Homo sapiens: one gene and its partner. The protein of the gene in region 2 interacts with the protein of the main gene of each other region in a biochemical or structural test. Each region holds a gene or a part of one and is shown on either strand. Other genes may lie near its edges.

Region 1 (6,528 bases), on a different chromosome or scaffold from region 2:
GGCCTCCTAAAGTGTTGGGATTACAGGTGTGAGCCACTACGCCAGCCCCTTTTCTTCTTTTTTTACTGCTGTGATTTACTTTTTCCACATTCAACATCCCCTAGTCTTTTCTGGTGACTTCCAAGTGACATAGGAACCCCCTAAGGGGCACAGTCTATGTGCTCAACAACAGTATGCTGGTCAAAAAAGGTTAAATGCTGTTGCAATTTTAAACTTTCCACCGTTCGTCAATCAGAATTAAGTGACATATAATGTTTGCTTCCCGCAACACCCTTCTTTTTATGGTGAAGATAACTTAAGCATATTCATTAAAAAGGCTAAAGTCACACGTTCACACATTAAAAGTCACTTTGAGACATTCAATGATCTGATGGTGGACTTACGTTTTCTCCTTTAAAAGGAAGGGGTTGTCTGCTGTTGTGATTTTAACTGATACATCTCACTCTAGTCAAGGTGTTTAGCAGGAACTGTTAACAATGAAACTGAGAAAAACACAAACATGAACAAATGACCTTTTATTTCATACAGAGATACAAAGGCAACTATGTGCAGCAACAATCTGACGGGCAGTCCAAACTCTTGGGAGGAAGTAAATTCATGGTAAATGTCATGATGGCTGGTCGAGGAGAAGGTCAAAGGAGGAGAGAGAGGAGACAGAGAATGCTACAGCTAATAAATAACAGTAATGAGAACTGTGTGGTTTCAACGCCATGAGTTTGTTGGGGCATCCTCTGTGCTACTAAAGCCACAATTCTATATCATCATCATCAACATTCTTGAAGCGCATTTTACACTATTCTGCATTAGCAATTGTGTTGAGGGAACTATAAACCTTAAAATTACTGACACATTTTATTAAAGGAGCTGTAAACTCTGCTCATTATTGCCTGTCTTGGATGTGGCCTTTGGGATTCATAGCCTCTTTTAAGGAAACAGGGTTGACACACTTTGGTTGGTCCCAGTTTTTGAGGCAATGCTAGTTGTAATAGCATCATCTTTTAATCTGAGGAAAATGTTTCTTTAAAAAACCTGTCTTCCAAAATACAACAAAAAACAAGGTCTGGGTAGTGGCGAATCCTTCCATGGCACTCCATGCCTCCCTGTGGGCTGTAACCATGCACCTGAGTAAAGAGTCTCATAAAAATACTTCTCCAATGCATTTATAATAGGGACACACTACATAGTTTGTTATTCATTAAAGCAGTTTATTGGCTTAATGTACATCAGTGAATTTTTAAATGCTAAAAATTTATGATAAAAGAATACTGAATCAAAACATCAAAGAAAGAAAATAGAGGCTCAGCAGCATGATTTCAATATATTTTCCTGGAAAAAGTTTTTTTTTTTTTTAAAGTGTATGACTTTTTATCCAAGAACAAAAGCTTTCTAAATGCAATGTTTAGACTTGATTTTTTTTTTAAACTAAGCCCAGAAAACTGGGGCTCATAAAATAAAGGCACAATGTGGGCAGCAAGAGAAAAAAGGAGAAAAAATGGGGAAAAAATTGGTTTTAATCTCACGTGTAACATAGGTTGGCTGGTTTTGTTTTTGTTTTAGACAATTAAAGGCAGAATTATCTCCCTGAACACTGCAGATAAATCCTAGTGTTTTAGCTATAAGTTTCAAGAGTTCAGATATACAGATAAAGCAATTTAAAAAAAGCTTTTCTTATTCTAAGGCTTTTGATGCATTATATAAATCTTTAAAATTCCTATCACCCACATTTTAAGACATACATCTATACTTTAATAAGGCACTCTTAAGATATAAAACAGTTTTAAAAACAATGACATTCTACATTAGGGCTAACCCATTCCTCTGCCATAGGGATGGAGTGAATTGTCTCTCTGAATCAAGTCAATCTCTGTGCACCAACAAAAACAGGCAGGTGCCTTGACCCATTCTGAATTTATCTGAGTAGCTGAATTTTAGCAATGGGACTCTCCCATCCACTAGTCGGGGAGTTACACAAACAGAATTGCCCAAGTTTGATAATGAAATTTAAAAACATTATCTCCTTTTTTCTAGAAATGCTTCCTTTGAACATGACTGTCACTTCCATTAGCTCCTGTCCATAAAGAAAAACACAATGGAAGATAACCAATGATTCCCCATATCCTTCAGTTTTCCTGATGGGACAGAAATATAAAGGAACTTTATTTTTAAATGACAACCTAATAACTGTTAATAACATGACATTTTAGTTGTGTGTCTTGTATGTATTTATGTCATTGGTGCTAATAGCTTCCACTTCTAAATGACACACATTTGAATCCTACCATCCCTATTGCTAATTAAACAAACACCAAAGCTTACAATATAGTACTGCAACCTCTAAGACTGTAACAACACAGAGAAATTTTAGTGGAGTTTCCACTCTTTCCTAAGTAATGGAAGAAAATGAAGAAACCAGAAAGGTCAGACTAAGCCTGAAACACAATTTCACTATGAAAAAAGGGTAACAAATGTCCCATCAGAGCGAGAGGAGTTAAAAATGTGGCATCGGGAGTGTATCAGATTGAGGTGCTGTTGTTGGCTAGGTCTTTGCTTCCAATGAGGAAAGAAGGACCTAGAAAGGAGCTGTGAGGTGCTTCTTTCCTTCATCCTTCTGGGCTGGCAGCAAACGATCAATTACTTCCCGTAGAACTTTTTGTTGAGAAGGAAGATCAGGAGGTTGACATTTACTTTAGCTCTATCAAATAATTTCATGACTGCAACTCCTTCATACTGTAGCTGCAGCAGGTCCTATTAACAAAACAAAACAAAACAAAACAAAACATTTTGACAGTTAATCAAGTCTGTGGAACAAGGAAAAAGGACACAATGTAGGGAGGGATCCAGATGGACTGAGGCCTGCCTTGTGTGCCAGATGTGAACTGGGGCGAAAGAAAAGTTCCACGCTAGGCAACTACCCACTGCACAACCAGCCTGAGAGCTGGAGCAATAGGGCACATTGGCCAAGGGAGGCTTCTGGTTGATTTGGAGTTAGGAAGTCATGTTGTTCATATCAAAATTCATCATACATGGAAAGAAAAAGAAACATGTTCAATTGCCACACACATCTAAGCTTTTTATTTCAGAAGTCACAATGACATTTTCCCATTTCATCCATGTTATGGGTCACTAGTTTTAATAAATCTGGAAAAGGTGAAGCATTTAAACCTATGATGAAATATACTAAGCACGGGGAAATGAGATAAGGCTAGTAATGTCACCTTAATACTATCTGATAGATTCTTAATTTCTATTCCATATGAGAACACTTTCTATCCCGAAGGCAAGGGGAAAAGAGAGAACTTGATGTTTTATTAGGTGTCTGCCATGTGCTTGGCATTGTGTAAGCACATTACATAGTATCTTTTAAAGTCCTCACAAAAATTTTTATGAGGTGCGATTATTCTAACTTTAAAGATGAGCTACTGAGACTCAGAGATGTTAAATGACTTGCACAACAGGACAGAGATGGAGGCGATAAATCCAGATCTGACTGCAATGCTCCCGCTTTTCCTGCTACTTTCACCATTGTCCTGAACAAGTTTAAGAAATCTGAGTGGTCTCACTTCTGAACTTTATAAGAGTGGTGATGAGAAAGCAAGGGTCAAAAGTCTTGAAAGGACCCCACAAGGCCGGGTGTGGTGGCTCACGCCTGTCATCCCAGCACTTTGGGAGGCCGAGGCAGGCGGATCACGAAGTCACGAGTTAGAGACCAGCCTGGCCAACATGGCGAAACCCTGTTTCTACTAAAAATACAAAAATTAGCTGGGCGTTGGGGCGTGGTGGTGCACGCCTATATTCTCAGCTACTCAGGAGGCTGAGGCAGGAGAATCACTTGAACCCAGGAGGCGGAGGTTGCAGTGAGCCGAGATTGTGCCATTGCACTGCAGCTTGGGCAATAAGAGCGAAACTGTCTCAAAAAAAAAAAAAATTAGCCGGGCGTGATGGTGTGCGCCTGTAATCCCAGCCACTCAGGAGGCTGAGGCAGGAGAATCACTTGAACCCACGAGGTGGAGGTTGCAGTGAATGGAGAACACGCCACTACACTCCAGTCTGGGAGACAGGGCGAGACTCTGCCCCCCCCTCCAAAAAAAGAAAGGACCCCACAAGTTCAATTATCTGTTGGAAAAATCCTAGCAGCTCCATGAGGGCTGCTGGGACCTGTGCCTAACAGAATACCCCACACCTGGCAGTTACCCCACATTTAATGAATTTGTACATAAATTAATAAATTACCACAGGCAGACTGGTTGGCCTAACATGATTTGGTTAAAAAATTTAAAAATAAAAATATGTTCTGATAACTCCACGTAAATAAAAAATTTTAAATTAAAAAAATAATTTGGTGAAACTGAGGGAATAAGAGGTTCCTATTCTTTTTTTTTTTTTGGTGGAAGTACTTTAGTTAGCTGTGTGCATCACAAAATCATTTCACATTTGTTTAGCTAACATGTTTTAATGGTCTACTGGTCATTGAGAAGGAAACGAAGATGACTAAGAAATGCTACCTGTCCTTAAGGAGTTTATGGCTTTAGCGGGGAGAGGGGAAGTAAGTCAACACCTACTGTAAACAGAGGATGTCTGCAAGGGCTACAGAAGCGAAGGGGAAACCACCTATTATGGCTTGGCTGGGGGAGGCACACCCATGGAAGTACTCCATGGAGGAACAAAAGGGGCGGGGTTGGGAGGCAGGGGAGGGGAGGGAGGGCAGCATGAGCAGAAGCCCAAATGTACATTGACAGGAAGGCACCTGCCCGGGCTGGCAGGGCATGGCTGTGTGAAGCAGTGCAAGAAAGGAGAGAGAAGCAGACTAACCGGTGCCACACACACAAAGCTAAAGGAGTCTGGATGTCACCTAGGAATCCTCTCGATGCCCTGTTATTTTTTAACGTGTAAAAATCAGATATTTCAAAATAAAACTTAGGGATCTTTATGCTACAAAAATGAATTACTCCCGAGTTCTTTTTGGATTTAAGATAGAATTCAGTTTACAAACATAAACTTTACACACACCTTGTCAGAATGTATCTAACTTTTAAGTACCTATATCAAATCAAAATGACAAAAAGATTTCAAGCTACTGAGTGGGCTTAGAATTCTGCAGTGTCAGCATGTGTACTTCTGCATTTTGTTCAAGTCCAAGGTGTCAGCTCGATTTAGTGGCAGCACTAAGTGGAAGCTTCAGCTAAATGTTTTCTGAAGAGTGACATCTGCAAAAGCTCTCCAGAGCGCACACACCAAACCAGACATGCTGAAACCCTCAGCTTCTTTCCCCGCAGTGTGGAGCCTAGCTCACTGCTGAATGTAGACAGCTTTCCTCAGATGAGTCTCCTCTTTATCTATTTCTCCTACTTGGACAAGAATCTCATCCAGAAAGTTTTTGGTTCCTGCTGGTGCATACCCACCTGATAATGTAACATAAAAGTCTCCATTTGAACTCCCATGAATTTGGCTTTCACTTCGAAGTCTCCAACTTCTTCTGTTGGACTGATTTCAAATATAACATTTTTAAACCTGTTGAAAGATAACATCGTAAGGGTATGGTTTTTATATTCTCATATAAAAATATTCTGTGAAATGGGGAAAGGAGATGAACCAAGTCTTCAAGAGTGAAAAGGGCTGCAGAAAATACAGGTCAAAAGTACTTCTGCAGCTGAAGCAGCACAGATTGCCAAGCCCAAGTACCATCTGCTCTGGGACTTGGAGAGAGGAATGGCAACCTCTCTCTGCCTGCAGCACTTACATCCTATCAAAGAGGAACCACTGAGGAGTTCCACAAGTGGCGTGTGAAGGGATGACATCATAGGAATTCTCTTCACTTCCACATGGCCAAAAAGGAAACCTAATGATAAAAGGAGAAAACGGAGGACACTGGGGAAGGAGAGGGTGTATGTGTTTGAATACATGCATGTTTGAGGACTGGGAGAAGTAAATAAACAAAAGGGGGTCCGTATAAAAAGCACCAAGGGAGGAGGTTTTCTAGAAAGAGTAGGTGCTGTGTATATAAGCACACTCAGTATTACCAAAGATAAATTGTTATTATTGAACGTATTTAAGTTATCACTCATTCACAATATGTTACGTGCCAGGAAATTTTGGGGGGCCAAAAGGAAAAGGTATTATGCAGCCGGGCACAGTGGCTCACATCTGTAATCCCAGCACTTTGGGAGACCGAGGCGGGCGGATCACGAGGTCAGATCGAGGCCATCCTGGCCAACATGGTGAAACCCTATCTCTATTAAAAATACAAAAATTAGCTGGGCATAGTGGCATGCACCTGCAGTCCCAGCTACTCAGAAGGCTGAGGCAGGAGAATTGATTGAACCCGGGAGGCAGAGGTTGTAGTGAGCTGAGTACCATACCCTATCACCACTGCAGTCCAGTCTGGTGATAGGGCGAGACTCCGTCTCAAAAAAAAAAAAAAAAAAAAAAAAAAAAAGGGATTATGCTGTTCTCTGGATGATCAAAGTATAGCACCCCAGATTTCCAGAACTCAACTATGGAGCTGCCTTACCTATTACGAACAGGGCTGAG
Region 2 (7,030 bases):
ATCGCTTGAAACCCAGGAGGTGGAGGTTGTAGTGAGCTGAGATTGTGCCATTGCACTCCAGCCCGTGCGACAGAGTGAGACCTTGTCTCAAAAAAGCAAAAACAAAAACTATTAGAGATACGTCTTTGGCCGGGCACGGTAGCTCAAGCCTGTAATCCCAGCACTTTGGGAGGCCGAGGTGGGCGGTTCACCTGAGGTCAGGAGTTTGAGACCAGTCTGGCCAATATGGCGAAACCTCGTCTCTACTAAAAATAGAAAAATTAGCTGGGCACGCCTGTAATCCTAGCTATTCAGGAGGTTGAGGCAGGAGAATCGCTTGAACTTGGGAGGTGGAGGTTGCAGTGAGCCAAGATTGTACCATTGCACTCCAGCTTGGGTGACAGAGGGAAACTGTCTTTTTTTGTTTGTTTGTTTTTAAAGGAGATACATCTTCATCTGTTCCTGCTTTGACCCTTTGCCTGGACCATGGCAGTGTCCTTTCAGGCTGTACGTCCCTCCATCCTGCCCTCCTGTGCCTCTGCTTACACTGGGCTCTTAAGGAAACTCCTGCTCCTTGTCTCATCATCCCTAGGGATGGTTCTGTCTTATCATTTCTAGAATTGGATGCCTTGCCATCTTGTTTGCTCCTTAACTCTGCATACAGGGCTGTGTAAATAATTCCTTCATGAAAATCTCTATTTCAATCTTCTGGGATGAGTTTTTTCCTTCTGGGACCCTGACTGATAGAGACTGATAATACACCCGTATGAAAATATGTCTGCCAGGTGCGGTGGCTCATGCCTGTAATCTCAGCACTTTGGGAGGCCGAGGCAGGCGGATCACCTGAGGTCAGGAGCTCGAGACCAGCCTGGCCAACATGGCAAAACCCTGTCTCTACTAAAAGTACAAAAATTAGCCGGGCGTGGTGGTGGGCGCCTGTAATCCCAGCTACTCAGGATGCTGAGGCAGGAGAATCACTTGAACCCGGAAGGCGGAAGTTGCAGTGAGCTGAGATTGTGTCACTGCACTCCAGCCTGGGCGACAAGAGCAAGGCTCTGTCTTGAAAAAAAAAGAAAAAAAGTCAGAAATAATTTGCAAAGCATGTTAGAAAATTCTAGATTTCCTGAATAGCAATTTAATTGAGATTGGCCAAGAAATATTACATAGGGTTGATACTCTTTTATTCTAAGATAGTCCTTTCTGAGCATGGGGTCTATAATTTTTTTTTCCTCCACCTTACTGCTGCCCCACCTTTTAACTTTCACTTAGTGGACCTTTGCCCCAAGATTTTCTCTCAGCTTTTCCTAGGTAAGACAGCATCACCCGGGCGCGATGGCTCATGCCTGTAATCCCAGAACTTTGGGAGGCCAAGGCAGGCGGATTGCCTGAAGTCAGGAGTTCGAGACCAGTCTGGCCAATATGGTGAAACCCTGTCTCTACTAAAAATACAAAAAAATTAGCCAAGGATGGTGGGGGGCGCCTGTAATCCTAGCTACTCGGGAGGCTGAGGCAGGGGAATTGTTTGAATCAAGGGAGGTGGAAGTTGCAGTGAGCCAATATCGTGCCACTGCACTCCAGCCTGGGTAACAGAGTGAGACTCCGTCTCAAAAAGGAAAAAAAAGACAGCATCTTACATTCAGGTATTTATAAACAACTTTTATTATTTATTTGTTTTTATTTTATATTGGCTCACTGCAGCCTCCACCTCCTGGGTTCAAGTGATTCTCCTGCGTCAGCCTCCCAAGTAGCTGGAACTACACGTGCCTGCTACCATGCCGAGGTAATTTTTTTTTTTTTTTTTTTTTTGAGAAGGAGTTTTCGCCCTTTTTGCAAAGGTTGGAGTGCAGTGGTGCGATCTCGGCTCACTGCAACCTCCTCCTCCTGGGTTCAAGCGATTCTCCTGCCTCAGCTTGTCGAGTAGGTGGGATTACAGTCACGCTCCACCACACTGACTAATTTCGTATTTTTAATAGAGACGAGGTTTCTCCTTGTTAGCCAGGTTGGTCTCAAACGCCTGACCTCAGGTTATCCACCTGCCTTAGCCTCTCAAAAAGTACTGGGATTACAGGCATGAGCCACTACGCCTGGCAATTTTTTGTATTTTTAATAGAGACAGGGTTTCACCATGTTGACCAGGTTGGTTTCGAACTCCTGACCTTAGGCGATCTGCCCGCCTTGGCCTCCCAAAGTGCTGGGATTATGGGCGTGAGCCATCGTCCCTGGCCTAAACAACAGTTTTATTATTTTATTTTTTATTTTTTTATTGCTTATTACTATTTTTTGAGATGGAGTCTCGCTCTGTCACCCAGGCCGGGGTGCAGTGGCATGATATGGGCTCATGGCAACCTCTGCCTCCTGGGTTCAAGCAGTTCTCCTGCTTTGGCCTCCCAAAGTGATGGAATTACAGGCCCGAGCCACTGCGCCCGGCCACAACTATTTTAATAGTGTTGTTTTGGTGTTGGTTGATTAAAGGAATGGGAACGAATGACTTGAAGCCCTCTCTGTTTCACTCTTTATACAAAGTGGAGTCCAGATTGGGCTAGTGGCCTGTCTAGCCCAATGTCTGACTTGGACATACATTACTGTCCAGGAGTTTCTTAGCTGAATGTGAAAAATGCCTTCCGTGACATCATCCTTACAGGAACATTCTTTACATTTATTCTTTACTTCTGTTGAACGGTGGTGGCGTGAACCATGAATTTGTTTAAGCTTTTCAGCTGTTTTGTGTGTTTTCCTCTCAAGGCATGGGGTTTCATATTTTTGACCTGTGGTAAAGGTATTTGAATTCTGCACTGGCCTCCAAATGTAGGTGTAGTATATGGCTCTGATCTTTGTTGATGATTTTATACATAATGTGGTTTTTTTTCTTGATAAGCCAAAAAAATTATACATAATGTGTGTGTGTGTGTGTGTTTTAATTTCAAATGATAGTTACAGTAAAAGTTTGGAGTTGGGCTAAGTGGGAGGAGCATCAGGAAGCCATTTTTAGAAACCTTAAATTCACCCTTTATAACTTTCTGTCTTTTTGCATTAGTCATCTGATACCTTAGTACTGCCTACTTTTTCACATCTCCATCACTACGTAGCTCTTAAAATTGTAGTCTTCCTTGAAAGGAGATGTTTTTGTCAAGAGTCTTTGCCACCAAGGCAGGATTGCATGTGATCAGTAGGAATATTTTCCTGCAATGTCTTAATATGAAAAATTTCAAACAGACTAGTGGAAAGCATTGTACAGTCAACATGCACATACCCATGGCCTGGATTCTATGACAGTATTTTGCTCTACTTGTTCATTTTGCTGTATTTGCTTTATCATGTCTTCCTGTTATCAGAGGGAACCTTTTAAGAGGATTTATAGAGGAGTTGATTTTGTTTTTTGTTTTGTTTTGTTTTGCTCTTTTTGAGGTGGAGTCTTGCTCTGTTGCCCAGGCTGGAGTGCAATGGCATGATCTCTGCTCACTGCAATCTCCGCATCCCAGGTTCAGGCGATTCTCCTGCCTCAGCCTCCTGAGTAGCTGGGCTTACAGGCACCCACCACCATGCCTGGCTAATTTTTGTATTCTTAGTTGAGACAGGTTTCACCATCTTGGCCAGGCTGGTCTGGAACTCCTGACCTCAGGTGATCCACCTGCCTCGGCCTCCCAAAGTGATGGGATTACAGGCGTCAGCCACCATGCCCGGCCTGATTTTGAAAAAGAATAGGGACTGTGTGCAGTTACATATAAATTCTTATTTTTGAACTCTTGTGTGTTCAGCTGGCTTGTATCAACTACACCAGGGTTAGCCTTGATTCTGGAAGGGTGGATTCAGACTTCAGCTCAGTTGTACATAGTGTCTTCAGCCTAAGTGAGAAACTTTATGCACTATCTTAATTTTTTGAAGCTTCTAGTGGTAATAATTGCTGGCTTTTTTTTTTTTTTTTTGGTAGAAACAGAGTCTTGCTCTGTCGCCAGGCTGGAGTGCAGTGGCACGAAATCAGCTCACTGCAACCTCTGCCTCCCAGGTTCAAGCAATTCTCCTGCCTCAGCCTCCTGAGTAGCTGAGATTACAGGCGTGTGCCACCACACCCAGCTAATTTCTTTTGTATTTTAGTAGAGACGGGGTTTCACTGTGCTGCCCAGGCTGGTCTTGAACTCCTAAGGTCAGACAGTCCGCCCACCTTGCCCTCCTAAAGTGCTAGGATTACAGGCATGAGCCACCGTGCCTGGCTTATGGCTAGCTTTCTTTACATTGATTGTGAAGTCAGATATTGGTAGTAGAACATCATAATTTTAGATTGGGTTTTGTGTTTATTTAGCACTGCACTACTCTAGTGGTGTATTTTTCTGGACAGATTTTATCTGCATAGTTAACGCAGTTATATATAAGGCCTACCGTTACAGAATCCCCATACCTTGTTTGTCAGTGTAAATCGAGGACCTTCATGCGAGGTCTTTAATTTATTCAATAAGTAGGAATATATATTTGACAGTTACTAAATTCTACTGCCTTGTCCTTAAGATCTACATACTTTTTTTTGTTTTTTGAGTCAGAGAGTCTCGCTCTGTTGCTCAGGCTGGAGTGCAGTGATGCGATCTCAGCTCACTGCAACCTCTACCCCGTGGCCTCAAGCGATACTTCTGCCTCAGCCTCCTGAGTAGCTGGGATTACAGGCGCCTGCCACCACACTCAGCTAATTTTTTGTATTTTTAATAGAGATGCAGTTTCGCTGTGTTGGTCAGTCTGGTCTCGAACTCCTGGCCTGAAGTGATCCACCCGCCTTGGCCTCTTGCTGGGATTACAGGGAAGAGCCACTGCGCCTGGCCAAGATCTACTCACTTTTAGACAGCAATATATGCTCTGTATTTTGGTTTGCAATTGTAATTGTCATTGGAAGAGTTTGGCTTTTCTGTCCTGAGATCAACGTGTCTTTAAAAGAAGGCAGTGCAGAAAGTTGTTATTTTTTGAGCTTCTTGGATCTTTTATTTTTTTAACGTGAGGAAATTCCTAGCGTTTCTAGATTTGTTGATTGTGCTTTTAAGTTTTGGTTTATAGATTTCAGGAAGTAACACTAAAGTTTACCCTACTCTCCTCAAAAAGTAAGTAAAAAGTTCTCTTGGCTGGGCGTGGTGGCTCACGCCTGTAACCCCAGCACTTTGGGAGGCCGATGGGGTGGATCTCCTGAGGTCAGGAATTCGAGACCAGTCTGGCCAACATGGCAAAACCCTGTCTCTACTGAAAATACAACAACAAAAAAAAATTAGCTGGATGTGGTGGTGCTTACGTGTAGTCCCAGCTACTTGGGAGGCTGAGGCAGGAGAATTGTTCGAACCCAGCAGGCAGAGGTTGTGGTAAGCCAGGATTGCACCATTGGGCTCCAGCCTGGAAGACAGAGCCAAGACTCCGTCTTAAAGTTCTCTTAATGGAAAAATGAAGAACATAATAGCAACATAAGTTATTTGCTTTCATTGTGGTTATTTCTACAGGACAGGGCAGGGGAAGCACAGATAGGTTAAAAAAAATTGTAGCATCATGAGCTAGGGGGAAATCCAATGTAGAAATGGCATGAACTTTCTTCCAGCCGACTCATGTTCGTTTCCTAGAGTGATGACATTGCTCGATGATTGAAAAGAGGTTGAACTGAGCAGTTAATTATATAAAGTTAGAAATTCCAAAGAAGTAGTAACTACCAGAAATTCTCCAGCAGTATCAGTCAAGACTTGTGGCCAAATACGGCTTCCATTCTTCATGAGGGAAAGGCCATGGAAAGGCTGTCACATTGCCCAGTGCAGATGTTGACTTGGTTTGTGGAAGCGCAGCGTGGACAAGGAATGAATATACACTAATAGGAGTGGAATAACCTTTTTCTTTTACCTATTTGAATAAATTAAGTAAAAGTTTTAATCAGAAGACTTAAAGAGGAGTCGATTTTATCTTTTGATTGCACTAAGCTTAAATATAAGGTTGCACTTTAAGAATTCTGTAGTTTAATAATCATATTCTTATAAGACATAGATTTGTAACAAATAGTGATTGGTAATAAAATTTCAGTCAGTATCAGATTATGCCAGTACCTTGAATTTCTTCCCGGTTGAGCCTTTCTCAGCTAAAGATGTCATTCAGGAAAGGAAGTTTAGAGGATTTTAGACACAGCTGGTTGCCTTTATATTAGTAGTTTTGTTCCTCATATACATAGAGACTTAGGACAGAATAGTAAAAGAAGTGATAATGACATTTTATCATAACAGTCAAAACCTTCATAGCAGCTTATCCTTGACACTGAGTGGCAACTATTGTTAAGGTTTTTACACAACCTTTATCTTTTTTTTTTTTTTTTTTTTTTTTTTTTTTTTTTTGAGACGGAGTTTTGCTCTTGTTGCCCAGGCTGGAGTGCAATGGCGCAATCTCGGCTCACTGCAACTTCCGCCTCCCGGGTTCAAGCGACTCTCCTGCTTCAGCCTCCCGAGTAGCTGGGATTACAGGCATGCACGCCCGGCTAATTTTGTATTTTTAGTAGAGAGGGGTTTCTCCATGTTGGTCAGGCTCTTCTCGAATTCCTGACCTCAGGTGATCCGCCCGCCTTGGCCTCCCAAAGTGCTGGGATTACATGTGTGAGCCACCGAGCCCAGCCAACCTTTATCATTTTTAAAAAGGTCCCTTAGAGCCTTAGGCTCCACTTTCTTCCTCAGCTGCCACATCCAAACCATGGGTAAGCGATGCTTGATCTGCCTCCAAGTTCAAGCAGTCCAGGAAACAGCCCACTTATGTTCACTGTCCAGTCCCCATTCTTGGTCCAGGCCACCATGGATGGCTCCTGGACTGTAGCAACAGCTTCCATGTGTGTCTGCCTTGACTGAGTCCCTGGCGTCCTCAGGCTTCCTGCCACACTGCAGTTGGAGGCTTCTTCTAAAATCCAGTGCTTTCTGGGCAATTTAAAACCTGTGACTTTCCAAGTAGGATCTAGTCCCCATGTCCTTAACAAGAAGAGGTAACGTATTTCCCTATGCCACTGCCCACTTATTTTTTTATTGTTGAGATGGGATCGTGCTTTGTCACCTAGGCTGGGTGGAGT

The links. The genes of interacting proteins can lie anywhere in the genome.
Region 1: the proteins of RAC1 (region 2) and IQGAP1 form a complex in vitro, tested with the Homo sapiens proteins (3 studies listed by BioGRID).

The regions. Positions count from the first base shown.
Region 1 is NC_000015.10:90,496,212-90,502,739, reverse strand, and holds the end of IQGAP1 (ras GTPase-activating-like protein IQGAP1), read right to left. Parts: intron 5,509-6,528; coding exon 5,400-5,508; intron 2,746-5,399; coding exon 2,632-2,745; 3' UTR 501-2,631; downstream 1-500. UniProt on the Homo sapiens protein: Plays a crucial role in regulating the dynamics and assembly of the actin cytoskeleton.
Region 2 is NC_000007.14:6,377,506-6,384,535, forward strand, and holds part of RAC1 (ras-related C3 botulinum toxin substrate 1), read left to right. Parts: intron 1-7,030. UniProt on the Homo sapiens protein: Plasma membrane-associated small GTPase which cycles between active GTP-bound and inactive GDP-bound states.